Linked DNA regions of Homo sapiens: region 1 is linked to region 2. The links come from fine-mapping of genetic effects on gene expression. A gene starts in region 2. The other region holds a variant in brackets. All regions are shown on one strand. Distances are between the middles of the regions. Region 1 overlaps PMM2 (phosphomannomutase 2). Region 2 holds the start of PMM2 (phosphomannomutase 2).

Region 1 (12,969 bases), 44 kb before region 2:
GACCTCAGGTCCTCAGACCCACCAGCCCAAGAAACATCTCACCAATTTCAAATCCAATAAGCAGCCTCTTTTTACTCTCTTCTCCAACCTCCCTATCCCTCACCGTCTTTCTCCTTTCAATCTAGGCGCCACACTTCAATCTCTCCCTTCTCTTAATTTCAATTCCTTTCATTTTCTGGTAGAGACAAAGGAGACGTTTTATCTGTGGACCCAAAAAACCGGCGCCGGTCACGGACTGGGAAGGCAGCCTTCCCTTGGTGTTTAATCATTGCAAGGACGCCTCTGATCATTCACCCACGTTTCAGAGGTGTCAGACCACGCAGGGACACCTGCCTTGGTCCATAACCCTTAGCGGCAAGTCCCGCTTTTCTGAGGAAGGGGCAAGGACCCCAACCCCTTCTTTCCGTGTCTCTACCCCTTCTCTGATTTTCTGGGGCAGGGGCAAGAACCCCCCAACCCCTTCTCCTTCACCCTTAGCGGCAAGTCCCGCTTTTCTGGGGGAGAGGCAAGTACCCCAAACTCGTATCTCTGTGCCCCAATCCCTTATTTCCATGCCCCAACCCCTTTCCCGCTTTTCTGGAGGGTAAGAACCCCCAAACCCCTTCCCTCCATGTCTCTACGCTCTCTTTTCTCTGGGCTTGCCTCCTTCACTATGGGCAACCTTCCTACATTCCTCCTTCTTCTCCCTTAGCCTGTGTTCTCAAGAACTTAAAACCTCTTCAACTCATACCTGACCTAAAACCTAAATAAATGCCTTATTTTCTTCTGCAATGCCGCTTGACCCCAATACAAACTCGACAGTAGTTCCAAATAGCCAGAAAACGGCACTTTCAATTTTTCCATCCTGCAAGATCTAAATAATTCTTGTCGTAAAATGGGCAAACAGTCTGAGGTGCCTGATGTCCAGGCATTCTTTTACACATCAGTCCCTTCCTAGTCTCTGTGCCCAGTGCAACTCGTCCCAAATCTTCCTTCTTTCCCTCCCGCCTGTCCCCTCAGTCCCAACCCCAAGCGTTGCTGAGTCTTTCTAATCTTCCTTTTCTACAGACCCATCTGACCTCTCCCCTCCTCGCCAGGCCGAGCTAGGTTCCAATTCTTCCTCAGCCCCTAGACCCTAAAAGGTCAAAAGGCCGTCTTATTCTCAATATACATTTTATTACCCAATCTGCTCCCGACATTAAATAAAACTCCAAAAATTAGAATCTGGCCCTCAAACTCCACAACAGGACTTAATTAACCTCACCTTCAAGGTGTACAATAATAGAAAAAAGTTGCAATTCCTTGCCTCCACTGTGAGACAAACCCCAGCCACATCTCCAGCACACAAGAACTTCCAAATGCCTGAACCGCAGCGGCCAGGCGTTCCTCCAGAACCTCCTCCCCCAGGAGCTTGCTACACGTGCCAGAAATCTGACTACCAGGGCCAAGGAATGCCTGCAGCCCAGGATTCCTCCTAAGCCGTGTCCCATCTGTGCGGGACCCCACTGGAAATCGGACTGTTCAACTCACCTGGCAGCCACTCCCAGAGCCCCTAGAACTCTGGCCCAAGGCTCTCTGACTGACTCCTTGGCTTAGCGGCTGAAGATTGACGCTGCCCAATCGCCTTGGAAGCCCCCAGACCATCACGGACGCCAAGCTTTGGGTAACTCTCACAGTGGAGGGTAAGTCCACCCACTGTTTAATCGAAACGGGGACTACCCACTCCATGTTGCCTTCTTTTCAAGGGCCTGTTTCCCTTGCCTCCATAACTGTTGTGGGTATGGACGGCCAGGCTTCTAAACCTCTTAAAACTCCCCAACTCTGGTGCCAACTTAGACATTACTCTTTGAAGCACTCATTTTTAGTTATCCCCACCTGCCCAGTTCCCTTATTAGGCCGAGATATTTTAAGCAAATTATCTGCTTCCCTGACTATTCCTGGACTACAGCCGCATCTCATTGCCGCCCTTCTCCCCAACCCAAAGCCTCCTTTGCGTCTTCCTCTCATATCCCCCCACCTTAACCCACAAATATGGGACATTTCTACTCCTTCCCTGACAACTGATCACATGCCCATTACCATCCCATTAAAACCTAATCACCCTTACCCCGCTCAACGCCAATATCCCATCCCACAGCACGCTTTAAAAGGATTAAAGCCTGTTATCACTGGCCTGCTACAGCATAGGCTTCTAAAACCTATAAACTCTTCTTATAATCCCCCCATTTTACCTGTCCAGAAACCGGACAAGTCTTACAGATTAGTTCAGGATCTGCGCCTTATCAACCAAATTGTTTTGCCTATCCACCCTGTGGTGCCCAACCCATACACTCTTTCATCCTCAATACCTTCCTCCACAACTCACTATTCCACACTTGATCTTAAAGATGCTTCTTTCAGCGTTCCCCTGCACCCCTTGTCCCAGCCTCTCTTTGCTTTCACCTGGACTGACCCTGACACCCATCAGTCCCAGCAGCTTACCTGGGCTGTGCTGCCACAAGGTTTCAGGGACAGCCCTCATTACTTCAGCCAAGCTCTTTCTCATGATCTACTTTCTTTCCACCCCTCCGCTTCTCACCTTATTTAATATATTGATGACCTTCTTCTTTGTAGCCCCTCCTTTGAATCTTCTCAACAAGACACACTTCTGCTCCTTCAGCATTTACTCTCCAAAGGATATCAGGTATCCCCCTCCAAAGCTCAAATTTCATCCTCATCTGTTACCTATCTCGGCATAATTCTCATAAAAACACACGTGCTCTGCCTGTTGATCTTGTCTGATTAATCTCCCAAACCTCAATCCCTTCCAAAACAACAACTCCCTTCCTTCCTAGGCATGGTTAGTGCGGTCAGAATTCTTACACAACAGCCAGGACCACACCCTGTAGCCTTTCTGTCCAAACAACTTGACCTTACTGTTTTAGCCTAGCCCTCATGTCTGCGTGCAGCGGCTGCCGCTGCTTTAATACTTTTAGAGGCCGTAAAAATCACAAACTATGCTCAACTCACTCTCTACATTTCTCATAACTTCCAAAATCCATTTTCTTCCTCATACCTGATGCATATACTTTCTGCTCCCCGGCTCCTTCAGCTGTACTCACTCTTTGTTAAGTCCCACAATTACCATTGTTCCTGGCCCGGACCTCAATCTGGCCTCCCACATTATTCCTGATACCACACCTGACCCCCATGACTGTGTTTCTCTGATCCACCTGACATTCACCCCATTTCCCCATATTTCCTTCTTTCCTGTTCCTCACCCTGATCACGCTTGATTTATTGATGGCGGTTCCACCAGGCCTAATCGCCACATAGCAGCAAAGGCAGGCTATGCTATAGTACAAGCCACTAGCCCGCCTCTTAGAACCTCTCATTTCCTTTCCATCGTGGAAATCTATCCTCAAGGAAATAACTTCTCAGTGTTCCATCTGCTATTCTACTACTCCTCAGGGATTATTCAGGCCCCTTCCCTTCCCTACACATCAAGCTTGAAGATTTGCCCCCACCCAGGACTGGCAAATTAGCTTCACTCAACATGCCCCGAGTCAGATAACTAAAATACCTCTTAGTCTAAGTAGACACTTTCACTAGATAAGTAGAGGCCTTTCCTACAGGGTCTGAGAAGGCCACCGCAGTCATTTCTTCCCTTCTGTCAGACATAATTCCTCAGTTTAGCCTTCCCACCTCTATACAGTCTGATAACGGACCAGCCTTTACTAGTCAAATCACCCAAGCAGTTTCTCAGGCTCTTAGTATTCAGTGGAACCTTCATATCCCTTACAGTCCTCAATCTTCAGGAAAGGTAGAACGGACTAATGGTCTTTTAAAGGTACACATCACCAAGCTCAGCCTCCAACTTAAAAAGGATTGGACAGTACTTTTACTTCTTGCTCTTCTCAGAATTAGAGCCTGTTCTCGAGATGCTACAGGGTAGGTACAGTCCATTTGAACTTTTATATGGACGCACTTTCTTGCTTGGCCCCAACCTCATCCCAGACACCAGCCCTCTAGGCGACTGTCTTCCAGTCCTCCAGCAGGCTAGACAGGAAATTCGCCAGGCTGCTAAGCTTCTCTTGCCTACTCCAGATCCCCAGCCATATGAAGACACCCTAGCTGGACGATCAGTTCTTGTTAATCTGACTCCTCAAACTCTACAACCTCGATGGACCGGACCCTACTTAGTCATCTATAGTACCCCGACTGCTGTCCGCCTGCAGGATCCTCCCCACTAGGCTCACCGTTCCAGAATAAAGCTGTGTCCATCGGACAGCCAGCCTAATCCCTCCTCTTCCTCCTGGAAGTTGCAAGTACTCTCCCCTACTTCCCTTAAACTCAGTCGTATTTCGAAGAACAGTCATAACCCTTATGAGCCTAATACATCCCTTCATTCTATTAGGTTTTTCGTCCTTACCCTACTTTTTGCAACAGGGCTTTACGAAGTCACCCCCACCACTTAGGCCGAGCCCCAAAAAACTAGTCATCCCTACTATCTTCTGTCTGGTCATACTCCTATTCTCCATTCTCAACTACTTATAAATGCCCTACTCTTGTTTACACGGCCGGTTTACACTGTTTCTTCAAGCCATCACAGCTGATATCTCTTGGTGCTATCCCCAAACTGCCACTCTTAACTCCCTCTTAGAGTGGATAGATGATCTTTGCTGGCAAGGCACCCTCCAATATTTCCACCCTGATGAAGTTCTATTCTTTACTTTTATACTCACTCTTATTCTCATTCCCATTCTTATGCCACCCTCTACCTCTCCCCAGCTATCTCCACCACACTATCAACCTTACCCATTCTCTCCTAGCCGCTTCTAATCCCTCCTTAGTGAACAACTGCTGGCTTTGCATTTCCCTTTCTTCCAGTGCCTACACAGCTGTCCCCACCTTACAGACAGACTGGGCAACATCTCCCATCTCCCTACACCTCCGAACTTCCTGTAACAGCCCTCACCTTTACCCTCCTGAAGAACTCATTTACTTTCTAGACAGGTCCAGCAAGACTTCCCCAGACATTTCACATCAGCAAGCTGCCGCCCTCCTTCACACTTATTTAAAAAACCTTTCTCCTTTCTCCTTTCTCCCCCCATATTCGGACCTCTCACAACACAAACTACTATGCCTGTGGCCGCTCCTATATGTATCTCTCGGCAAAGACCCACTGGAATTCCCCTAGGTAATCTTTCACCTTCTCGATGTTCCTTTACTCTTCATCTCCAAAGTCCAACTACACACATCACTCAAACAATGGGAGCCTTCCAGCTCCATATTACAGACAAGCCCGCTATCAATACTGACAAACTTAAAAACATTAGCAGTAATTATTGCTTAGGAAGACACTTGCCCTGTATTTCACTCCATCCTTGGCTACTTTCCCCTTGCTCATCAGACTCTTCCTCCCAGGCCCTCCTCTTGTTTACTTTTACCCAGCCCCGAAAATAATAGTGAAAGGTTGCTTGTAGATACTCAACGTTTTCTCATACACCATGAAAATCGAACCTCCCCCTCTATGCAGTTACCCCATCAGTCCCCATTACAACCTCTGACAGCTGCCGCCCTAGCTGGATCCCTAGGACTCTAGGTACAAGACACCCCTTGCAGCACTCCTCATCTTTTTACTTTACATCTCCAGTTTTGCCTCGCACAAGGTCTCTTCTTCCTCTGTGGATCCTTTACCTAACATGTGTCTACCTGCTAATTGGACAGGCACATGCACACTAGTCTTCCTTACTCCCAAAATTCAATTTGCAAATAGGAACGAAGAGCTCCCTGTTCCCCTCATGACACCGACACAACAAAGAAGAGTCATTCCACTAATTCCCTTGATGGTCGGTTTAGGACTTTCTGCCTCCACTATTGCTCTCGGTACTGGAATAGCAGGCATTTCAACCTCTGTCATGACCTTCCGTAGCCTGTCTAATGACTTCTCTGCTAGCATCACAGACATGTCACAAACTTTATCAGTCCTCCAGGCCCAAGTTGACTCTTTAGCTGCAGTTGTCCTCCAAAACCACCGAGGCCTTGCTTACTCACTGTTGAAAAAAGAGGACTCTGCATATTCTTAAATGAAGAGTGTTGTTTTTACCTAAATCAATCTGGCCTGATGTATGACAACATAAAAAAACTCAAGCATAGAGCCCAAAAACTTGCCAACCAAGCAAGTAATTACGCTGAACCCCCTTACGCACTCTCTAATTGGATGTCCTAGGTCCTCCCAATTCTTAGTCCTTTAATACCCATTTTTCTCCTTCTTTTATTTGGACCTTGGATCTTCTGTTTAGTTTCTCAATTCATCCAAAACTGTATCCAGACCATCACCAATCATTCTATACAACAAATGTTTCTTCTAACATCCCCACAATATCACCCCTTACCACAAGACCTCCCTTCAGCTTAATCTCTCCCACTCTAGGTTCCCACGCCGCCCCTAATCCCGCTTGAAGCAGCCCTGAGAAACATCGCCCATTCTGTCTCCATACCACCCCCCAAAAATTTTCACCGCCCCAATACTTCAACACTATTTTATTTTTCTTATTAACATAAGAAGGCAGGAATGTCAGGCCTCTGAGCCCAAGCCAAGCCATCGCATCCCCTATGACTTGCACGTATACATCCAGATGGCCTGAAGTAAATGAAGATCCACAAAAGAAGTAAAAATAGCCTTAGCTGATGACATTCCACCATTGTGATTTGTTTCTGCCCCACCCGAACTGATCAATGTACTTTGTAATCTCCCCCACCCTTAAGAAGGTTCTTTGTAATTCTCCCCACTCTTGAGAATGTACTTTGTGAGATCCACTCCTGCCCACAAAACATTGCTCTTAACTTCACCGCCTATCCCAAAACCCATAAGAACTAATGATAATCCACCACCCTTTGCTGACTCTCTTTTCGGACTCAGCCCGCCTGCACCCAGGTGAAATAAACAGCCATGTTGCTCACACAAAGCCTGTTTGGTGGTCTCTTCACACGGACGCGCATGAAACACTTCAATCTCTCCCTTAATTTCAATTCCTTTCATTTTCTGGTAGAGACAAAGGAGACACATTTTATCTGTGGACTCAAAACTCCGGCGCCGGTCAGAGACTGGGAAGGCAGCCTTCCCTTGGTGTTTAATCACTGCAGGGACGCCTGATTATTTACCCACGTTTCAAAGGTGTCAGACCATGCAGGGACGCCTGCCTTGGTCCTTCACCCTTAGCGGCAAGTCCCACTTTTCTGGCGGAGAGGCAAGTACACCAACCCCTTCTCTCCGTGTCTCTACCCCTTCTCTGCTTTTCTAGGGGAGGGGTAAGTACCCCAACCCCATGTATCTCTGCGCCCCGATCCCTTATTTCTGCGCCCCAATCTCTTATATCTCTGTGCCCCAATCCCTTATTTCCGTGCCCCAACCCCTTCTCTGCTTTTCTGGAGGGCAAGAACCCCCCACCCCTTCTCCGTGTCTCTACTCTTTTCTCTGGGCTTACCTCCTTCACTATGGGCAAGCTTCCACCTTCCATTCCTTTCTTCTCCCTTAGCCTGTGTTCTTAAGAACTTAAAACCTCTTCAACTCACACCTGACCTAAAACCTAAATAAATGCCTTATTTTCTTCTGCAATTCCACTTGACCCCAATACAAACTCGACAGTAGTTCCAAATAGCCAGAAAACGGCACTTTCAGTTTTTCCATCCTACAAGATCTAAATAATTCTTGTCGTAAAATGGGCAAACGGTCTGAGGTGCCTGATGTCCAGGCATTCTTTTACACATCAGTCCCTTCCTAGTCTCTGTGCCCAGTGCAACTCGTCCCAAATCTTCCTTCTTTCCCTCCCACCTGTCCCCTCAGTCGCAACCCCAAGCGTCGCTGAGTCTTTCTAATATTCCTTTTCTACAGACCCATCTGACCTCTCCTCCTCGCCAGGCTGAGCTAGGTTCCAATTCTTCCTCAGCCTCCGCTCCTCCACCCTATAATCCTTTTATCACCTCCCCTCCTCACACCTGGACCAGCTTACAGTTCATTCTGTGACTGGCCCTCCCCCACCTGCCCAGCAATTTACTCTTGAAAAGG[T/C]GGCTGGAGCTAAAGGCATAGTCAAAGTTAATGCTCCTTTTTCTTTATCCCAAATCAGATAGCGTTTAGGTTCTTTTTCATCAAATATAAAAATCCAGCCCAGTTCATGGCTCGTTTGGCAGCAACCCTGACACGCTTTACAGCCCTAGACCCTAAAAGGTCAAAAGGCCGTCTTATTCTCAATATACATTTTATTACCCAATCTGCTCCCGACATTAAATAAAACTCCAAAAATTAGAATCTGGCCCTCAAACCCCATAACAGGACTTAACTAACCTCACCTTCAAGGTGGACAGTAATAGAAAAAAGTGGCAATTCCTTGCCTCCACTGTGAGACAAACCCCAGCCACATCTCCAGCACACAAGAACTTCCAAACGCCTGAACCGCAGCAGCCAGGCGTTCCTCCAGAACCTCCTCCCCCAGGAGCTTGCTACACGTGCTGGAAATCTGGCCACTGGGCCAAGGAATGCCCACAGCCCGGGATTCCTCCTAAGCCGCGTCCCATCTGTGCGGGACCCCATGAAAATCAGACTGTTCAACTCACCTGGCAGCCACTCCCCAGAGCCCCTGGAACTCTGGCCCAAGGCTCTCTGACTCCTTCCCAGATCTCGGCTTAGCAGCTGAAGACTGACACTGCCCAATCCCCTCGGAAGCCCCATAAACCATCACGGACGCCGAGCATCGGGTAACTCTCACAGTGGAGGGTAAGTCCATCCCCTTCTTAATCAATACGGAGGCTACCCACTCCACATTACCTTCTTTTCAAGGGCCTGTTTCCCTTGCCTCCGTAACTGTTGTGGGTATTGACGGCCAGGCTTCTAAACCTCTTAAAACTCCCCAACTCTGGTGCCAATTTAGACATTACTCTTTTAAGCACTCCTTTTCAGTTATCCCCACCTGCCCAGTTCCCTTATTAGGCCGAGACACTTTAAATTATCTGCTTCCCTGAGTATTCCTGAACTACAGCTACATCTCATTGCCGCCCTTCTTCCCAATCCAAAGCCTCCTTTGTGTCCTCCTCTTGTATCCCCCAACCTTAACCCACAAGTATAAGATACCTCTACTCCCTCCTTGGCAACCAATCATGCACCCCTTACCATCTCATTAAAACCTAATCACCCTTACCCCACTCAATGTCCCATCCCATGGCACGCTTTAAAAGGATTAAAGCCTGTTATCACTCGCCTGCTACAGCATGGCCTTTTAAAACCTATAAACTCTCCTTACAATTCCCCCATTTTACCTGTCCTAAAACCAGACAAGGCTTACAGGTTACTTCAGAATCTGCGCGTTATCAACCAAATTGTTTTGCCTATCCACCCCGTGGTGCCAAACCCATATACTCTCCTGTCCTCAATACCTCCATCTACTACCCATTATTCTGTTCTGGATCTCAAACATGCTTTCTTTACTATTCCTTTGCACCCTTCATCCCAGCGTCTCTTTGCTTTCAGTTAGATGACCCTGACACCCATCAGGCTCAGCAAATTACCTGGGCTGTACGGCCACAAGGCTTCACAGACAGCCCCCACTACTTCAGTCAAGCCCAAATTTCATCCCCATCTGTTACCTATCTCGGCATAATTCTCATAAAAACACACGTGCTCTCCCTGTTGATCGTGTCTGATTAATCTCCCAAACCTCAATCCCTTACAAAACAACAACTCCCTTCCTTCCTAGGCATGGTTAGTGCGGTCAGAATTCTTACACAACAGCCAGGACCACACCCTGTAGCCTTTCTGTCCAAACAACTTGACCTTACTGTTTTAGCCTAGCCCTCATGTCTGCGTGCAGCGGCTGCCGCTGCTTTAATACTTTTAGAGGCCGTAAAAATCACAAACTATGCTCAACTCACTCTCTACATTTCTCGTAACTTCCAAAATCTACTTTCTTCCTCATACCTGATGCATATACTTTCTGCTCCCCGGCTCCTTCAGCTGTACTCACTCTTTGTTAAGTCCCACAATTACCATTGTTCCTGGCCCGGACCTCAATCTGGCCTCCCACATTATTCCTGATACCACACCTGACCCCCATGACTGTATCTCTCTGATCCACCTGATATTCACCCCATTTCCCCATATTTCCTTCTTTCCTGTTCCTCACCCTGATCACGCTTGATTTATTGATGGCGGTTCCACCAGGCCTAATCGCCACATAGCAGCAAAGGCAGGCTATGCTATAGTACAAGCCACTAGCCCGCCTCTTAGAACGTCTCATTTCCTTTCCATCGTGGAAATCTATCCTCAAGGAAATAACTTCTCAGTGTTCCATCTGCTATTCTACTACTCCTCAGGGATTATTCAGGCCCCCTCCCTTCCCTACACATCAAGCTTGAAGATTTGCCCCCACCCAGGACTGGCAAATTAGCTTCACTCAACATGCCCCGAGTCAGGTAACTAAAATACCTCTTACTCTAAGTAGACACTTTCACTAGATAAGTAGAGGCCTTTCCTACAGGGTCTGAGAAGGCCACCGCAGTCATTTCTTCCCTTCTGTCAGACATAATTCCTCAGTTTAGCCTTCCCACCTCTATACAGTCTGATAACGGACCAGCCTTTACTAGTCAAATCACCCAAGCAGTTTCTCAGGCTCTTAGTATTCAGTGGAACCTTCATATCCCTTACAGTCCTCAATCTTCAGGAAAGGTAGAATGGACTAAAGGTCTTTTAAAAACACACCTCACCAAGCTCAGCCTCCAACTTAAAAAGGACTGGACAATACTTTTACCACTTTCCCTTCTCAGAATTCAGGCCTGTCCTCAGAATGCTACAAGGTACAGCCCATGTAAGCTCCTGTATAGACGCTCCTTTTTATTAGGCCCCAGTCTCATTCCAGACACCAGACCAACTTAGACTGTGCCCCCCAAAACTTGTCATCCCTACTATCTCCTGTCTAGTCATATTCCTATTCGCCATTCTCAACTACTCATACATGCCCTGCTCTTGTTTACACTGCCGGTTTACACTGTTTCTCCAAGCCATCACAGCTGATATCTCCTGGTGCTATCCCCAAACTGCCACTCTAAACTCTTGAGGTAAATAAATAATCTTTGCTGGCAGGACTATGCTGAATCTCCTTAGGCACTCTCTAATCAGATGTCATAGGTCCTCCCAATTCTTAGACCTTTTATACCTGTTTTTCTCCTTCTCTTATTCCATTTAGTTTCTGAATTCATCCAAAACCGTATCCAGGCCATCACCAATCATTCTATACGACAGATGTTTCTTCTAACATCCCCACAATATCACCCCTTACCACAAGACCTCCCTTCAGCTTAATCTCTCCCACTCTAGGTTCCCACGCCGCCCCTAATCCCGCTTGAAGCAGCCCTGAGAAACATCGTCCATTCTCTCTCCATACCACCCCCTAAAAATTTTCACCGCCCCAACACTTCAACACTATTTTATTTTTCTTATTAATATAAGAAGGCAGGAATGTCAGGCCTCTGAGCCCAAGCCAAGCCATCGCATCCCCTGTGACTTGCACGTATACATCCAGATGGCCTGAAGTAACTGAAGATCCGCAAAAGTAAAAATAGCCTTAACTGATGACATCCCACCATTGTGATTTGCTTCTGCCCCACCCAAACTGATCAATGTACTTTGTAATCTCCCCCACCCTTAAGAAGGTTCTTTGTAATTCTCCCCACTCTTGAGAATGTACTTTGTGAGATCCACTCCTGCCCGCAAAACATTGCTCTTAACTTCACCGCCTATCCCAAAACCCATAAGAACTAATGATAATCCACCACCCTTTGCTGACTCTCTTTTGGGACTCAGCCCGCCTGCACCCAGGTGAAAAAAACAGCCATGTTGCTCACACAAAGCCCGTTTGGTGGTCTCTTCACACGGACGCGCACGAAACCCTCTACCCGCCAGGCATTGCTTTAGCAGCTGGGGATACGGCGCAAACCAAAACCACATCACAGCTGCCCTGGGGAGACCAGTCATCAACAGACAGCTCTTGGGCGCCTTGTTGAGCAAAGGGAGGGAAGGGCTGCCAGGCCTGGAGGGTGAGGGAACCCTGGCATCTGAGGGACGTGAGGGCACAGGCCATGTGGCCATCAGAGAAGACGCTGAAGAGGGAGGATGGGCAGGGGCTGGGGCCGGGCCACAGCGGGCCTCACAGATTGTGGTAAGCACCTGGGATTTCACGGGTAGCCGCCTGAAGCCTGCAAGCCCGGGCCATGATCAGATTACTTTACAACAGGATCTTTCTGGAGAACGGGTGCGGGGTGAGGACGCAATTGAAGGGAGCAGTTAGGAGGCTCCTGCAGCCGGCCAGGGTGCAAAGAGGACAGAGGCCATTACCTGGGAAGAGACCCCTGAAGCAAAAAGGGTTTATGCTAGTCCCCTGACAGTTGCTAGGCCTGCCCTTCCCTGCAGATGTCACATGCAGGGACAGAGGCCTAACGGCACGAGTCTCCTCCCGTGGTCCTGCTGGGGGCTGGTGGGGAGGTGTCTGTGGAATCTGAGTGATCTGTGTGCATGTAACTCGCTGACACTTAATAAAGCTAGGTCTGGAGAATCAATTCCCATCCAGGAAGGTGAAATCCTCCCGACCCTGGCTGCAGGAGCCTCTCTGGGTTGCTTCTCAGCTCCACCCGCTTTCAGAGAGCCGCACGGCTCGCAGGAGCATCTGCATCACAAACACAACCTGCCTCAGGCCTTCCTTTCTCTCCCGCCAAGGGTCTGCTTCTTTCTTTGTGACTCTCAGAGCATGGTGGGCTCCTTCCTGGGGTGCAGCCTTCTTGGGGCTGTGTCGAGCTTGCATACCAGAGTAGCTGCAAAGCAAGTGAAGCGGACCCCAAATGAAATGAAAGGAAAGCTGGCTGCCCTCTAGAATAATAAGGCTAGAGAACCGGAAATTTCAAATGCTGGATTTGCATATGCACTAAAGGTTACTTGATTCTAGTTGGGGAACTCAGCCACCTCCC
Region 2 (16,525 bases):
ACAGGGGTTAAAAGAACAATCAATTCATCCACCTCTCCACTTATAATTTTTTTTTTTTTCCAAGACGGAGTTTCGTTCTTATTGCCCAGGCTGGAGTGCAATGGTGTGATCTCGGCTCATTGCAACCTCTGCCTCCTGGGTTCAAGCAATTCTCCTGCCTCGGCCTCCTGAGTAGCTGGGATTACAGGTGCCCGTCATCACGCCCAGCTCATTTTTTGTAGTTTTAGTAGAAATGGGGTTTGATCATGTCGGCCAGGCTGGTCTCAAACTCCTGACCTCAGGTGATCCATCCGCCTCGGCCTCCCCAAGTGCTGGGATTATAAGCGTGAGCCACCGCGCCTGGCATCCACTTACAATTTCTTACAGGCCAGGAGGCCCTGTGGCTATGGAGATGAATAACCCATACTCCTGCTCTTCAAAAACATATAATCGGATAGTTTACAATAATTACAGAATGCTACATTAGCAAGGTTGTACACTAGAATCTCTCAGAGGTACTCACTGAAATAGGATTCCCAGGCTCCACAGACCTATCAAGTCAGACTCTCCAGTGAAGGGGTCAATAAGCCTCTCTGGTTTTTCGGGGTCCTGTGCTGGAGATTCTGTTTCAGTGATGGGGAGGTGAGGGGGGCTGTCAGAGGGACAATATGAAGACCGGTCTGACTGGGGCTAGAAGGGCTGTCAACGGGTACAAGCAAGAAGTATTCCAGGCAGAGAGATTATCATGTGCAGATACAGCCACTGACCTTTCTAGGTGAATCTACTCACACATCTGAGTACCCAGTTCTCCATCAGTAACTCCAGAAATGTACTGGATTAAAAGCAGAGGAAAAGCAAAGGCCAAGAAAATGTTTCCCAAAAAAGGAAGCAGAAAGCCCGCCATATGGGGACAAGGTTTTAGGGCAGCCTATGATACTTGGCAACAATATCCTCATAAGAAGTTAATCTTTTACCAGATGTAATTAGCAACCCATCATTTACCATCATTTCCCAGTTGCTCCTGCACTTTCTCAAAGTCCGATCCGCCTACCACTCCGATTTTGATCTTCTGCCTCAATTTTTGTAGGAAGTCATCCATTTCTTTGGTAATTTTCTAAATTTCAAGAAAGAAAATACAACAGTCATAAGCCACACAATAATCAGGAGACCAAAACTCTAAGGGTAACACAAGTACATAAGTCTTATTTTCTTATTTAAAAATTAAAGAAAAAATTTTTTTTTGAGATAGGGTCTCACTTGTCACCCAAGCTGGAGTGCAGTGGCATGGTCATAGCTCATCGCAGCCTCGACCTCCCTGGACTCCGGTGATCCTCCTATCTCTGCCTCCTGAGTAGCTGGGACCATAGTTATGTGCCAGCACACCTGGCTAATTTTTTTATATTTTGTAGAGACTAAGTTTTGCCATGTTGCCCAGGCCAGTCTGGAACTCCTGGGTTCAGGAGATCCACCAGCCTTGGCCTCCCAAAGTGCTGAGATTACAGGTATAAGCCAGGTCTATAAGCCTTATTTTCATACATGCCAATTAAGTTACCAGCTCTGTACATAGTTCAAATATTTTAGTTGTAACTGGGGGGGCATCTTTACCAGAATAAACTTAAGTGTTATTTTTACCAAATTTTAAACACAGGTAATATGTTAGTAGCTGTTGTGCACTGTCCCAGCTATTTTTCTATGCATTTATATACCCATCTATGGGCACATATACAAATAGGTCTTATTTTTGAAACATAAATGGAATCATGTCCTGTGCAGGGACTTTGGTTTTTCAGCACTATGCTGTGGTGATCTTTTCATGCCAACACAGATCTAGCTCATCATTCCTTTTAAATGCTACACTATACTCCATTTATGGATTTAAGTTGTTGATTTTAAAATAAAACAACATAATGAAATTAAAGAGGAAGCTTAGGGCCAGACATGGAGGCTCATGCCTGTAATCCCGGCACTTTAGGAGGCCGAGGCGGGTGGATCACCTGAGGTCAGAGTTCGAGATCAGCCTGGCCAACGTGGCGAAACCCTGTCTCTATTAAAAATACAAAAATTAGGCGGGCGCGCTGGTGGGCGCCTGTAGTCCCAGCTACTCGGGAGGCTGAGGCAGGAGAATCACTTGAACCCGGGAGTCAGAGGTTGCAGTGAGCCAAGATCGTGCCACTGCACTCCAGCCTGGGTCACAGAGCGAGACTTCGTCTCAAAACAAAACAAAACAAAACAAAAAAAAAAAAAAAAGGAGAAGCTTAGAATTGATTTTATTGCAATCACCCAAAACAAAACAAAAATGTAAAAGAGTAAGATAACTAGATTTTTTAGTCTCTTCTAAAAGCAAAGCTCCTATCTAGAAAGAGTGGTCTTAGTGGTATAATCTTATGGTAAATTCCAAACTGTGTGATAATTTTAAAAAAGTTATAAACTAAGATGAAAAAATAGCCCTACATTAAGACACATCACAATGTATTTTTACAAGTCTTATAACTCAGCACTTTGAGCAATCTCAGTTGTACATTTACACTGAATGTCTTTTTTTTTTTTTTTTTGACACGAAGTCGTGCTCTGTCACCCAGGCTGGAGTGCAATGGTGTGGTCTCGGCTCATTGCAACCTCCACTTCCTGGGTTCAAGCGATTCTCCTGTCTCAGCCTCCCAGGTAGCCAGGATTACAGGCGCCCGCCATCATGCTCGGCTAATCTTTTTGTATTTTTAGTAGAGACTGGGTTTCACCATGTTGGCAAGGCTGGTCTCGAACTCCTGACCTCAAGTGATCCACCCGCCTCAGCCTCCCCAAGTGCTGGGATTATAGGCATGAACTACCGTGCCCGGCTGAATATCTTTTTACTAGAAATTTAGAAAATACAAAAAACCATTTAATTCAACCTCAGTATATAAACACTTGGAGTTCAATGATTTTTCTTTAAAAAACTTTTTTAGAGTAATACATGAATGTGATTAAAATTGTACAGAAGGGTTTGTAATAGAGTGCAATCTTTTCTACTCTCACAGTGGAATCTGGACCTATTAGACAGAATCTAGAATTGGAGGAGTGGCCTTTAAAAGTCAGAACACGGTGGCTCACGCCTGTAATCCCAGCACTTTGGGAGGCCGAGGCGGGTGGATCACGAGGTCCAGAGATAGAGACCATCCTGGCCAACACAGTGAAACCCCATCTCTACTAAAAATACAAAAATTAGCCAGGCGTGGTGGTGCCTGCCTGTAGCACCAGCTACTTGGTTGCCTGAGGCAGGAGAATTGCTTGAACCTGGGAGGTGGAGGTTGCAGTGAACTGAGATTGGGCCACTACACTCCAGTCTGGTGACAGAGTGAGACTCTGTCTTAAAAAAAAAAAAAGAGTCAGAACTGTGAAAATCAGAAAATCAGAAGCACTTTCCTGAATGGCATACCCAGTGACTAGAACAGCTTCCACCTTAGCACAGATAGGAAATGGCAAACTTGACAGGAACCAATATCCTGAGGCCCAGAGACTTGTACCAGGTTGGCTGTGTGAAACTGAGGAGGTTAGTTCTTCACTGAGTGTGTTTCCTTATGTTTAAAACGGTAATAACAACTATCCTACCTGGGAAGAAAGATGGAGGAAGGTTGAGAGGGTTCAGTGATATGAAAAAGGGTGGCAATGTAAACCCTAGACCACTATGGCCCACAGACCACATTGGGCAGCTGTTTGTTTTTGTAATAAATAAATAAAATTTTATTGGTACACAGCCACTCTTATTTATATAGGGTTTATGGCTGGTTTTGCACTAAAGTTGAGTGGTTACTATAGACCACATAGTCAGCAAAGACAGAGAAGTATTTGCTATATGGCCCTTTACAAAAAATGAATTGGGGACCGGAGTTTTAGACCACTATGGGCTTTTAACAAACCCAAGTGTGTGATCACTGAATTTCAGAATCAGAAAAAGCCTTTGAAGAACTTGGGAGTTGAGCGTCATCACTAGGTAAATCAAACCTGTGGCTGAGAAGGGCAAAATGATACGTCTAAGGTCACACGCATTTGACCTGGACTTCTGGAGCACACCATTGTTACCACCAAGCGAAAACTATGAGGGGTGAGGGTAGAAGCTGAGGATAGTGAGACCATTGGGGTCCAGTCTCAAGTTGAAATGGCCAGTGTTCAGTGGCCAATTTCTGAAAAGGGGCCAGGAGAGCCTCACCTCAAGGCTGATCGTAACTGAAACTTATCTGTGCCTGTAGCAGCAAAATCTGAAAGTGGAAAGCAAGTTTCCAAGGGCCCAAAGAGGCTCTCAGCGGGCAGCCTGTAATAACCTAGGGCTCCTCCATCTCCCTAGTCCATTGCAGGGGCTGGAGATGGGTGTGGTGGAGGTGGCTACTATTTACTGAGGCCTAGTGTGTTGTGTCCAACATACTTTCAAGAACTTACACAATCTCATTTGATCCTCACAGACACCATATGGAACAGGTAACATCCCCATTTAAAGCTGTAGATGTTGAGGCTCAGAGAGGTTAATGACTCGCTGAAGGTCACACAGATGTCAAGAGGTGAAGATGAGACTCCACTAGGTCGGTTTGACCTGGAAACCTGTTTTTAATATCATGACTCACGGCACAGCCCATTGGTTACAGGATTGGGGCCGACACATAGCTGATAAGGGGGCCTGATCTTGGGTTGAAATCCTGGTCTATCAGTCCCGAGCACTAGCGGTGAGTCCAGATTACATTTTCCAACCTAGCACAAGTTTCCTGCTCTTAAGAGTTCTTCAGCCCCGTCTCATCTTTCCAAGCACCAGAGCTCTTCAAGAGCTGGTTAGGGCCTCCCTCTCATTCCTCCAGTGCACCCAGAATAGGGTTCAGCGCCGTGAGGACGTAGGCGGTCCTTAGCCACCCCTTGGCGCCTACCCTGGGTGGTCGATAGCCCCAACTGGGAACAGCACGGGCTCCGCGTCGGCTGCCAGCAGCCCGCCGGCCGCCACTTACCTGCCGCGGGGCGGTGAGGGTCCCATCCACGTCGAAGAGGCAGAGCGCTGGGCCAGGCGCTGCCATGTCCCCAGTTTCTAGCCGCACCTTACAAGACACGTTGGCACGAGGAACTCGGCCCGGAACTTCCGGGTTCGGCCGCTGAGTCGCAGGGCACGTCGGGAAGAGGAGGGGACTCCGTTCCCATAACGCCTGGGAGTAGCGGCAGCCACGATTCCTGGACCGCAACTCCCAGGGTGCAACGCAGATCACGCCCGCCTTGTACATTCGAGCATGCGCTCTTAGGGGTTCCGGGGGCCGGTGGGATTTACTTCCGGCAGCAGGTGGTGGGGCCATGGTAAGGAGGCGGGTGGCGAGCCTTGAGGGGGTGATGCTCTTTGGGGTCGGGGTCAGGGCTGGGGCGGGCAGGCCCGACGCTCGGGTTTCGGACTCCGAGGATCCGTGGGAGGAAGCTCTGGCGTGTGTTACAGTTCGCTTTTCCCGGGCTTTCTCTTGCCCTCCTTGGGTCACATGCGCACAGTAGTAGTAGCTAAAACTCGCCGAGCTCTCACAGTGCATTAGGTACTAAGTTGAGGACTCTGAAACCATCCTCTGGTTCACTGTGTTCTGAGTCCCCATTTTGAAAGGCGAAGAAACCGAATCTCAGGGGTGTGGAGTAATTTGCTCACAAATTACTGTTGGAGCCAGAATTGGAATAAGAGCTTTTACTGCTTCACTACCCACCTAGTAATACCCTTGTGCTACGTGTTGGGGCCTCCCTGCCTCGCTCCTTCTCCTTCTCCGCTGTTTCCCCTTCCCCAGACTAGGCTAAGAGAAAGCAGCAGTTCCCTCCAGCACCCAAGATAGCATATGAATCAAACAGAGAATTAGAAAGTTTATTGGAATAAATATCTCACAGATTTGTTGCTCGAGTTCCCCACTAAGACACTGATTATTTAGTTTCCTGCTTGGGGAAATGTTCACACCCCCTTGTGGATACATTGTCCAGCCCAGAGTTTGTCCTCCCTGGATATGTTTTGAATTAATGACGGCCGCACCTCCTTTCCTGTATTTATTTGGAATTGCCTGGTGGAAGGAGGACTCTGCTGCACTCACTGACTGTGTGATCTTTGGTAAATATCTTACCCTCTCTGGGCTTAGTTTCCCTAGTGGTAAAGTGGAAATAGTGATAACTATCTTAGATAGCTGTTGTGATGCCCACATGAGATAGCATCTGGCTTTACCCTTCCCTCGTCTGGCAATAACGGTTACCTTGCAGGATTGGCAGAAGCCTTAGAGTATGGTGCTTTGCAGATGTTCACCGTGTGATTAATGTGGTTGAGTTCCATGAGAGAAATGGTCTACTGTCTCCCTTTCAGGCTGCCCTTCTCCGAGCTGTGCGTAGGTTTCGGGGAAAAGCTGTGTGGGAAAGGCCTCTCCATGGGCTGTGGTGCTGCAGTGGGCAGGAGGATCCTAAGAGGTGGGTGGGCAGCAGTTCACCCATCTCGAAGGAGAAACTACCAAACGCAGAGACTGAGAAATTCTGGATGTTTTACCGTTTTGATGCCATCAGAACCTTCGGGTTCCTGTCACGACTGAAGTTGGCACAGACTGCCCTGACAGTGGTAGCTTTGCCACCAGGCTATTACTTGTACTCCCAGGGCCTCCTCACTCTCAACACCGTGTGCCTCATGAGTGGGATATCGGGCTTTGCCCTGACCATGCTGTGCTGGATGAGCTATTTCTTACGGAGACTGGTTGGTATCCTGTATCTGAATGAGTCTGGCACCATGCTGCGGGTGGCCCATCTGAACTTCTGGGGCTGGCGGCAGGACACATACTGTCCCATGGCAGATGTGATTCCCCTGACAGAAACCAAGGACCGGCCTCAGGAGATGTTTGTGCGTATCCAGCGGTACAGTGGGAAACAGACCTTCTACGTCACCCTGCGCTATGGACGCATCCTGGACAGAGAGCGTTTCACACAGGTGTTTGGGGTACATCAGATGCTCAAGTGAACAACTGGGACCTGGACCTCTGGGTAACCCTGGGTCGCCTGGATTAACAGGAAGGCTGAGGGTGTGGGCAAGGCTGAAGAAAGGGGACTGGGTACTTGGAGACTTTGCCTGGGCCCCTGGGAACATGTGTTTTGTGGTGAATAAATTCACAAGGCAAGAGCTGGTGTACAGGTTTAGGAAAAAGGCTCTAAGCAAGTTCTTACAGCACTTGTTTGTGACATTCAGTCAGATAATGGCCAGAAGTTTTTGTTAAGAGCCAGTTCTTAGAAGAACCTATGCCAAGGTCACCCATAGAGTCCATTGGTGTGAAAGAGAAAGGCAAAGAGGTGTGGCGGGGGAGCGTAAGATTTGGAGTCAGAAGTCTCAGTTCTGTCATTTGTCCTGGAGCAGGTTATTGAGTCTCTTTGAATCTTGGTTTTCACATCTGTAAAATGGAAAGTCCTGCTTGTTTCATGGGATGGGTGTGGGAATAAACAATAAATGTCAAACGTGTGGCAGACTCAACAGCCTACAGCAGATATTATTAAGCATTTGGTCAGAGGTTTTAGCAGGGAGAAAGGCTTCGAGCAGTCAGCAGGGACTTCCAGAGCCCTGTGCTGTGCCCCTCACATATCCAGCGGCAGAAGGGTCTGTCAGGATGTTAACTACACATTGACGAGCAGATGTCGTCCAGGTAGGCACGAAACCCCAGTTGAGATTTGTTCACCACCCAGAGGTCTAGAGGCTCTTGCTTTGGATGGCCCTGCAGTGTAATAAAGCCAAATGCACCGGATGCTGGTACGTTATTTTATAAACTTAAGCCAGTTATATACATTGCCCCACATAATTAATAATATATGTTCATTATACAATTTGTAACACAGTAAAGAGGAAGGAAGGCATGATCTTTATTATTTTGCCACTCGAAAGTCAATAAGAATGTTTTATCGCTGGGGGCGGTGGCTCACACCTGTAATCCCAGCACGTTGGGAGGTCAAGGTGGCGGATCACGAGGTCAGGAGATCGAGGCCATCCTCGCTAACAGGGTGAAACCGTGTCTCCACTAAAAAATACAAAAAAATTAGCTGGGCGTGGTGGCAGGTGCCTGTAGTCCCAGCTACTCGGGAGGCTGAGGCAGGACAATGGTGTGAACCTGGGAGGCGGAGTTTGCAGTGAGCCGAGATCACGCCACTGCACTCCAGCCTGGGCGACAGAGTGAGACTCCGTCTCAAAAAAAAAATATTTTTTTTTATTGTGTAGCCTTCCATTTTTCTTAACCATACCAAGATACACCTAACAAATTTATCCTTTTAATCATTTTTAAGTGTGCAATTCAGGGACATTAAGTATATTAACAATGTTGTACAGGCTGGGCACACTGTCTCATGCCTGTAATCCCAGCACTTTGGGAGGCTGAGGCGTGTGGATCACTTGAAGTCAGGAGTTCAAGACCAGCCTGGCCAACATGGCAAAACCCTGTCTCTACTGAAAATACAAAAATTAGCTGGGCATGGTGGTGGGCACTTGTATTCCCAGCTACTTGAGAAGCTTGAACCCGGGAGGCAGAGGTTGCAGTGAGCCGAGATTGCACCAATGCACTCCAGCCTGGGAGACAGCCAGACTATCTCAAAAACAAACAAAACAAAAAATGTTGTACAACCGTCACCACCATCTATTTCCAGAACATTTTCATTATCCCAAACAGAACTAATATACCCATTGAGCAATAATTTCCTTCTTTTTCCAGCCCTTGGCAACCACTAACCTGCTTTCTGTCCCTCTGGATTCACCTGTTCTGGATATTTCATATAAATGGAATCATACAATATGTGACCCTTTGTATCTGGCTCTTTTTTTTTTTTTTTTTTGAGTTGAAGTCTCGCTCTGTTTCCCAGGCCAGAGAGCAGTGGCGCGATGTCCACTCACTGCAACTTCCGCCTCACCAGCTCAAATGATTCTGCCTCAGCCTCCCAAGTAGCTGGGATTATAGGTGCCTGACGCCAAGCCTGGCTAATTTTTGTATTTTTAGTAGAGATGGGGTTTCACCATGTTGTCCAGGCTGACCTGGAATCTCTGACCTCAAGTGATCACCCACCTCGGCCTCCCACAGTGCTGGGATTATAGGCGTGAGCCAGTGCGGCTGGCCTGTATCTGGCTTCTTTGACTTGGTGTAGTGTTGTCAAGGTGCATCCGTGTTGTAGCATATGTCAGTGCTATTTCTTTTTTATGGTTAAATATATTTACGGGTGCAGTGTGTATTCTCTGTGTGTGCCACATTTTGTTTGTCCATCTGTTGATGGACATTTGAGTTGTCGTCACCTTTTGACTACTGATGAATGAACATTTGGCTATTGCTGTGAACACTGGTATACGAGTATCTGTTTGAGTCCCTGCTTTCAGTTGTTTTGGGTACGTACTGAGAAGTGGATTAACTGGATCCTGTGGTAATTCTGTTTATTTTTGAGGACCTGCCACTTTTCCACAGCAGCTGTACCATTTTACATTCTCACCAGCAACAGACAAGGGTTCCTGTTTCTCTACATTCTTGTCAACAGTGGTTACTTTTCCTTTTTTTTAAATTTGAGATGGAGTCTTACTCTGTCACCCAGACTGGGTTGCAGTGGTGTGATCTTGGCTCACTGCAGACTCCGCCTCTCAGGTTCAAGCGATTCTCCTGCCTCAGCCTCCTGAGTAGCTGGGATTACAGGCACCCACCACCATGCCCAGCTAATTTTTCTGCTTTTAGTAGAGATGTGGTTTTGCCATGTTGGCCAGACTGGTCTCGAACTCCTGAACTCGAGGGATCCACCTGCCTCGGCCTCCCAAAGTGCTGGGATTACAGGTATGAGCCACCACGCCTGGCCCTTCACTTCGATGCTTCTGTCCTGTGCTTCCATCCTTGCTTTACTTGAGTCCGTTTTTGCAGCTGTCAAAGTGATGCTTAAAAACAGAATCACGTCACTGCTGTGAAGGCTGATGGCCTAATCCACCCTCCCCTTCCCTCCCTCATCCGCACCTCTGTGGAGATCATTCCCCCAGGTCACGACTGCCTTGCTGTTCTCCAGTAATCGAGAATATTCCAGCCTTAAGGCCTTTGCATTGACAGTTCCCTCTGCCTGGAAGGCTTTCTCCCTAGATGCCTGCAAAGAGAACTAACCGCCTCCCCTTCAGTATCCTCTCGGTATAACAGGGTTTTACTATTTATGCTCAAGAAGTGTAGTGAAGATTCAATTATATAGAAGAGACATGTGCATAGCAGTTACACGTGGCTGTTCATTCCTTCTGTACCTTGCCTTCACCTGCCTGTCAGTTCCTTCAGTGACTGTGACTCCCTTCCCCATGAAGAGATAAAGCCTGTGGCTAAAAAATGTCTTAAGAAGTCATAATGATTTGACCTTAACCTCATTAAAACCAAAAATTCTCTCTGTTGGGTTGTAAGTAATGACCTGAGTGAGCCTCACCCCAGGATATTCTGATTATGTCTGGGGTGGATTTCCAGGATCTGTTTTTTTGACCAGCTTGAAGCCAATTCTGAGATTCAGGCAGGCTGGGAATTTCTGAAATACATTACTAGAACAGAAGACACCAGAGTGACACATGGTTCTGTGGACTTTGTGTTCCTGGGCCAATTTTCTGCCCAAAGAATAGGTTCTTAACACTGGCTTTATGTGTAGAATCTCCTGGAGAGTGTTTTAAAAACCCCATTGTCGAAGCCCATGACCAGGCATTTTTATTTTCACGGTTCCCTGGGTGATTCTAACATGGTTGACCATCGCTGCCTTTGGAGAATCACCACTCTGTTAAGTCTGCAAGGGGCTTGCCCTGGGAGGTGAGACCAGATTCTCACCCATGCAGGCATTCCATGTGTGGTCTGCTCATGCAGTACCAGCAGAGGGCACACAGAGCAAATGCATTATTCTAACGCTGTATCCCTAAGCTAAAATCACAGATGTCCACCAGATAACAGGAAATGTGTTAGGGCTTCTGTCATGCACCAGTAGGGTAGTACCTGAGAGCTGCCCCCAAAAAACCAAAGTCAACAACAGAAGCAATAAAAGGACTGGTGCAGTGGCTCACACCTGTAATCCCAACTCTTTGGGAGGCCAAGGTGGGCAGATCGCTTGAGACCAGAAGTTCAAGACCAGCCTGGGCAACATGGTGAAACCCCATCTCTACTAAAAATGTGAAAAATTAGCTGGGTGTAGGGTACATGCCTGTACTCCCAGCTACTGGGGAGGCTGAGGTGAGAAGATCACTTGAGCCTGAGGGGCAGAGGTTGCAGTGAGCTGAGACTGCGCCACTGCACTGCAGCCTGGGTGACAGAGCGGGATCCTGTCTCAAAAAACAAAAAAAACATTAAGTGTGCCCAACCCTTGTTGAATCTGGTAGAACCTGGGCATCTGTTTGTTTATGCTTCCCAGGTTATTCCACAGTACTACAAGTTTTGAGAATCACCCAAAGCCATACAATAGATGGCAAAGCAGCTTCTCAGAAAATGGGAGTTGTCTTTAGATTTGGGTGGTAGATATATTGGCAGTTGCCCCCTTTAACAACAATTATAACATGATTGTCTTAGTTCACTTGGGCTGCTGTAACAAAAATACCGTAGGCTGGATGGCTCAAGCAACATTAATTTTTACAGTTCTGGAGGCTGGGAAATCCAAGATTAATGCGTCAGCGGGTTCATTGTCTAGGAGGGCCTGTTTCCTGGTTGGTAGACAGGCTTATTCCTGCTGTGGTCTCCCATGGCAAAAGAGGTGAGGGAGCTCTCTGAAATTTTTTATAGGGCACTAATCCCATTCATGAGGGATCCACCCTCATGACCTAATCCACTTCCAAAGTTCCCATCTCCAGATATCATCACATTGGAAATTAGGTTTCAACATATGAATTTGGGGGTGACATAAACATTCAGAATATAGCAATAATCTAACAGAAATACTGAAGTGTACATATAAGGATGTTGACTGAAATATTTCCAATAGCAAAAAAACTAGTCCGGGCATGATGGCTCATGCCAGTAATCCCAGCACTTTGGGAAGCTGAGGTGGAAGGATCGCTTGAGACCAGGAGTTCGAAACCAGCCCGGTCAACATAGTGAAACCCCATCTCTACAAAAGAAAAAATAAAACATTAGCTGGATATGGTGGCACATGCCTGTAGTCCTAGCTACTTGGGAGGCTGAGGCAGGAGAATTGTTTGAGCCCGGAAGTTCAAGGCTGCAGTGAGCCATCACTGTGCCACTGCACTCTAGCCTGGGTGACAGAGTGAGACCCTGTCTCAATAAATAAATAAGAAAAGTAAAAACTGGGAATAATCTAAGTTTCCATTAGTAGGCCACATGGTTAAGTAAATGTTGGTAGATTAATATTGTAGTATACATGCAACCTTTAAAAAGAGTGAGATTGTACTGTATCTGTGGAAAAGACCACGAGGTAGGTAGTGAAAAAAAAAAAGCAAGTCACAGAACAGTGTAGTTCTGTGTGATCTTATTTGTGTTTTTAAAAAGTACATGTTGGCCAGGTGCAGTGGCTGTAATCCCAGCACTTTGGGATGCTGAGGCAGGTGGATGACTTGAGGTCAGGAGTTCGAGACCAGCCTGGTCAACATGGTGAAACCCCATCTCTACTCAAAATACAAAAATTAGCTGGGGGTGGTGTCAGACGCCTGTAATCTCAGCTACTCAGGAGGCTGAGGCAGGAGAATTGCTTGAACCCAGGAGGCAGAGATTGCAGTGAGCGGAGATCGCAACATCTCACTCCAGCCTGGGCTACAGTGTGAGACTCCATCTCAAATACATACATACATACATACATTGCAAATTGTGAAGAGTGGCTACCCCCGGGAGAGGATTGAGGGTGAGAGGGGTATAATGAGCACATCATTCATCCTAGCAAATGAAGAAAAACGCTGTAATAAACAGTCTGTTCTTCCATTCCCTTCTCCTCCCACCAGCTTTCTAGGCAAAGGAAAGTTTCTCAACCATGAATTCCAATTCTGGACTCAGAAGCTGAGTAGATGGAAGGAAACATGCAGTCTTTGAAAACTCAGTTAAAGCAGCTGTGATTTAACCATGTTTGTCCCTTGTCAAGTGGCTTTCCTTCTTGTCTGGATTTTGCCCCCGTCTCCCTGCCATGCTGTGGCCATGTAAATAATTTAGATGCCTAGGGTGGTCTGGAGCATGTCCGTTTTATTTTTTTGTTTTTCGAGACAGAGTCTTGCTCTGTCGCCCAGGCTGAAGTGCACAGGTGTGATCTCGGCTCACTGCAACCTCTGCCTCCCGGGGATCAAGCCATTCTCCTGCCTTAGCCTCCCAAGGAGCTGGGGTTACAGGCACCCACCACCACGCCGGCTAATTTTTGTATTTTTAGTAGAGACGGGGTTTCACCATGTTGTCCAGGCTGGTCTTGAACTCCTGACCTCATGATCCACCTGCCTCAGCCTCCCAAAGTTCTGGGATTACAGGCGTGAGCCACTGGGTCTGGCCTGTTTTTCTGTTTGTTTGTTTGTTTGTTTGTTTGTTTGTTTTAAGATGGATCCTCGCTCTGTCACCCAGTCTACAGTGCAGTGGTGCAATCTCAGCTCACTGCAACCTCTGCCTCCTGGGTTCAAGTGATTCTCTGCCTCAGCCTCCTGAGTAGCTGGGGTTACAGGCGCACGCCACCACGCTCAGCCAATTTTTGTATTTTTAGTAGGGACAGGGTTTCACCACGTTGGCCAGGATGGTTTCAAACTCCTGGCCTCAAGTGATCGGCCCACCTTGGCCTCCCAAAGGGTGGGGATTACAGGCGTGAGCTGCTGTGCCCAGCCACATGTCAGTTTTCATATGGCCACCATCCACACATGAGGTCTGCATCAACTGGGGACCTGGTGACGATGCTCCCAGTGTGCACGTGGGAAGCACAGCCCAGTGGTAGCTGTTGTCCTCCTTCCTATGCTGGTTACCAAAAATGAGACTTACCTTGTCATAGGGCCAGATGTCTATGGCATCCGCCACCCAATCATTGCATAACCATGTTTAATGCGCTCCCCAAAGCAGATCTGGTGGGCTGAGCAGCTTGCAGGGGACAGCCTGGATGAATTGCCTGGAGAACTAGAGTTGGGAGCTTGCTTTATGTTGCTGCTTTATGACTGCAAGACTCGTGAGTTCCTAAATAGAAAGCAACAGGGTCCCTTTGAACTCCGGGCAGAGTCCAACTTTTAATGGCCTTGTTTTGATCCTGCGCCATTCAATTGTAAAATCTTGCCTGATTAGAGTCCCATCAGGCAAGGCCAGTACCGTCTAGGTATGGCCATGTTCATACCAACTCTAAGGACACAAACATTCATTTTACTGATTAACAGTTGAAATACACTCTCAGATTCAGCTGGGCTTGCACCTATGGTGTGAAGTAGATTTAATATTTACCAGTGGGAAGTTAACTCTCACAGAAATATAATATTGCCTTTTAGAACTATATATGAGACACACTCAGCTATTCATGGAGAAGAAGCAGTAAAGGACACCAGCATGTATTAAATGCCTACTGTGTGCTGGGCAATTATTATAGGATTTCATTTAATCTGCCAGCAACACTTTGAGTTGGAGAACCCCAGAGAGGTGGTAGAGTGTTCGGGTGAAGCATATGGCTTCTGAAGCCAAACTTCTTGCCTGCTTGAATTCCAGCCCTGCCAATTCCCAGCTGTATAACCTCTTTCTCTGCCTCGGTTTCTTCCTCTGTGAAGTGAAGATAATAACACCACCTACCCAGGATTGTGGGGAGGATTACATGACTTACTACATGAAAAGCACTTAAAATAGTGCTCAGTCCAGGCAAGCACTCAATAAATGTTAGCTAGCAATACTATAATCATCCTTTTTTGGCAGAATAAGGTTCAGAGAACTGAAGTGACTTGCCCACGATCACCCGTCTAGAAAACAGTAGAGCTGGGTCATTCCACTGCCTCCCCAGGGGAAGGACAGAATATAGAAAACAGGCCGGCACAGTGGTTCATGCCTGTAATCCCAGCACTTTGGGAGGCCGAGGCAGGCGGATCACCTGAGCTCAGGAGTCCGAGACCGGCCTGTCCAACATGGCGAAATCCCGTCTCTACTAGAAATGACAAAAAATTAGCTGGGGTTGGTGGTGCATGCCTGTAATCCCAGTCACTGGGGAGACTGAGGCAGGACAATCACTTGAACTTGGGAGGTGGAGGTTGCTGCGAGCCAAGATTGCACCACTGCACGCCAGCCTGGGCGACAGAGTGAGACTCTTGTCTCAAAAAAAAAAAAAAAAAGAAAAGAAAACTGTGACTCTTTAACAATTTTTTTTTGGTTTTGTTTTGTTTTTTGAGACGGAGTCTCGCTCTGTCACCCAGGCTGGAGTGCAGTGGCACGATCTTGGCTCACTGCAACCTCCGCCTCCTGAGTTCAAGCGATTCTCGTGCCTCAGCCTCCCAAGTAGCTGAGACTACAGGCATGTGCCACCACACCTGGCTAATTTATATGTTTTTAGTAGAGACGGGGTTTCACCATGTTGGTCAGGCTGGTCTCAAACTCCTGGCTCAAGTGATCTGCCCGCCTCGGCCTCCCCAAGTGCTGGGATTATGGGAGTGAGCCACTATGCCCGGCCAGTGCTTTATAATTTTTACAACAGACGGGTGAGGTAGGTACAGTAAATCCTCATTTAATGTCATCAGTAAGTTTTGGGAAACTGATTATAAGTTAAACGACATACAATGAAACCAATATTTTTTCCTCATCATAATAGTAAGATGTTGAAAGAAACAATGTTATAACAAGACAACTTTGAATGAAATGATGTTTTCGAGGACCTGCCATCCATTTCCAAGAACCTATCTGTGACATTAAGTGAAGACTTACTATTTGTATACTTTTTTTTGTTTCGAGACAAGGTCTCACTCTGTCGCCCAGGCTGGAGTGCAGTGGTGCAATCATAGTTCACTGCAGCCTCAATCTCTTGGGCTCAGGCAATCCTCCCACCCCAGCCTCCCAAGTAGCTGGAATTATAGGCACATGCCACCATGCCAATAAAAATTTTAAAATTTTATTCTTAGTAGAGACAGGGTCTTGCTGTGTTGCCCAAGCTGGTCTCAAACTCCTGAGCTCAGGCGAATTCACCCGCTTTGGCCTCCTGAAGTGCTGGGATTACAGGCATGAGCTACCACACCCAGTCTTGTATGCCTGTTTTTAAGATGAGGAAATTGAAGCTTGGAGAGGTTAAGGGAATCTGCTCCCAATCACACAACTTGAAAGTTAGGATTTGATACACACTGATGTGGAAGGATGCTGTAATATTAGCATGTGGACAGATGTGAGTGTATGTGCACTTGTGTGCAGTCAACTCAGGACTAGCTGAGGGTAGGAACTGTCAATCGCTCAAGGAACTTTCTCTCGGCCAGCCTGGCCATCAGCCTTGGAAGGTCAACTTGACCTGGTCGGCGTTGAGTGTGAGCTCCGACATGCACATTCCTAAGGTAGGTGAGTTGAAGGCACCGGAACTTCAAGGTCAGTAACCCTTTGATGGCCAGGCACGGTGGCTCCCGCCTGTAATCCCAGCACTTTGGGAGGCCAAGGTGGGAGGATCACCTGAGGTTAGGAGTTCG

What was found.
Region 1: its variant is fine-mapped to the expression of PMM2 in whole blood (INTERVAL, PIP above 0.99).

What each region holds. Positions count from the first base shown.
Region 1 is chr16:8,831,968-8,844,936 of GRCh38, reverse strand. All of the region lies in intron 7 of PMM2 (phosphomannomutase 2), which reads right to left. Among named protein-coding and RNA genes, the nearest start is that of CARHSP1, 31 kb to the left of the region's middle. RefSeq lists enhancers at 7,953-8,485, 8,486-9,020. The variant T/C (reference allele first, on the strand shown) is at 8,030.
Region 2 is chr16:8,786,367-8,802,891 of GRCh38, reverse strand. It overlaps PMM2 (phosphomannomutase 2), which reads right to left and starts at 5,053. Exons shown (of 8, transcript NM_000303.3): 1 at 4,944-5,053; 2 at 982-1,093. The coding sequence starts at 5,009. It overlaps TMEM186 (transmembrane protein 186), which reads left to right and starts at 5,253. Exons shown (of 2, transcript NM_015421.4): 1 at 5,253-5,280; 2 at 6,302-7,712. The coding sequence starts at 5,278. The coding sequence ends at 6,940. RefSeq lists silencers at 3,365-3,414, 10,733-10,912 and enhancers at 4,270-4,964, 5,277-5,326, 4,965-5,659.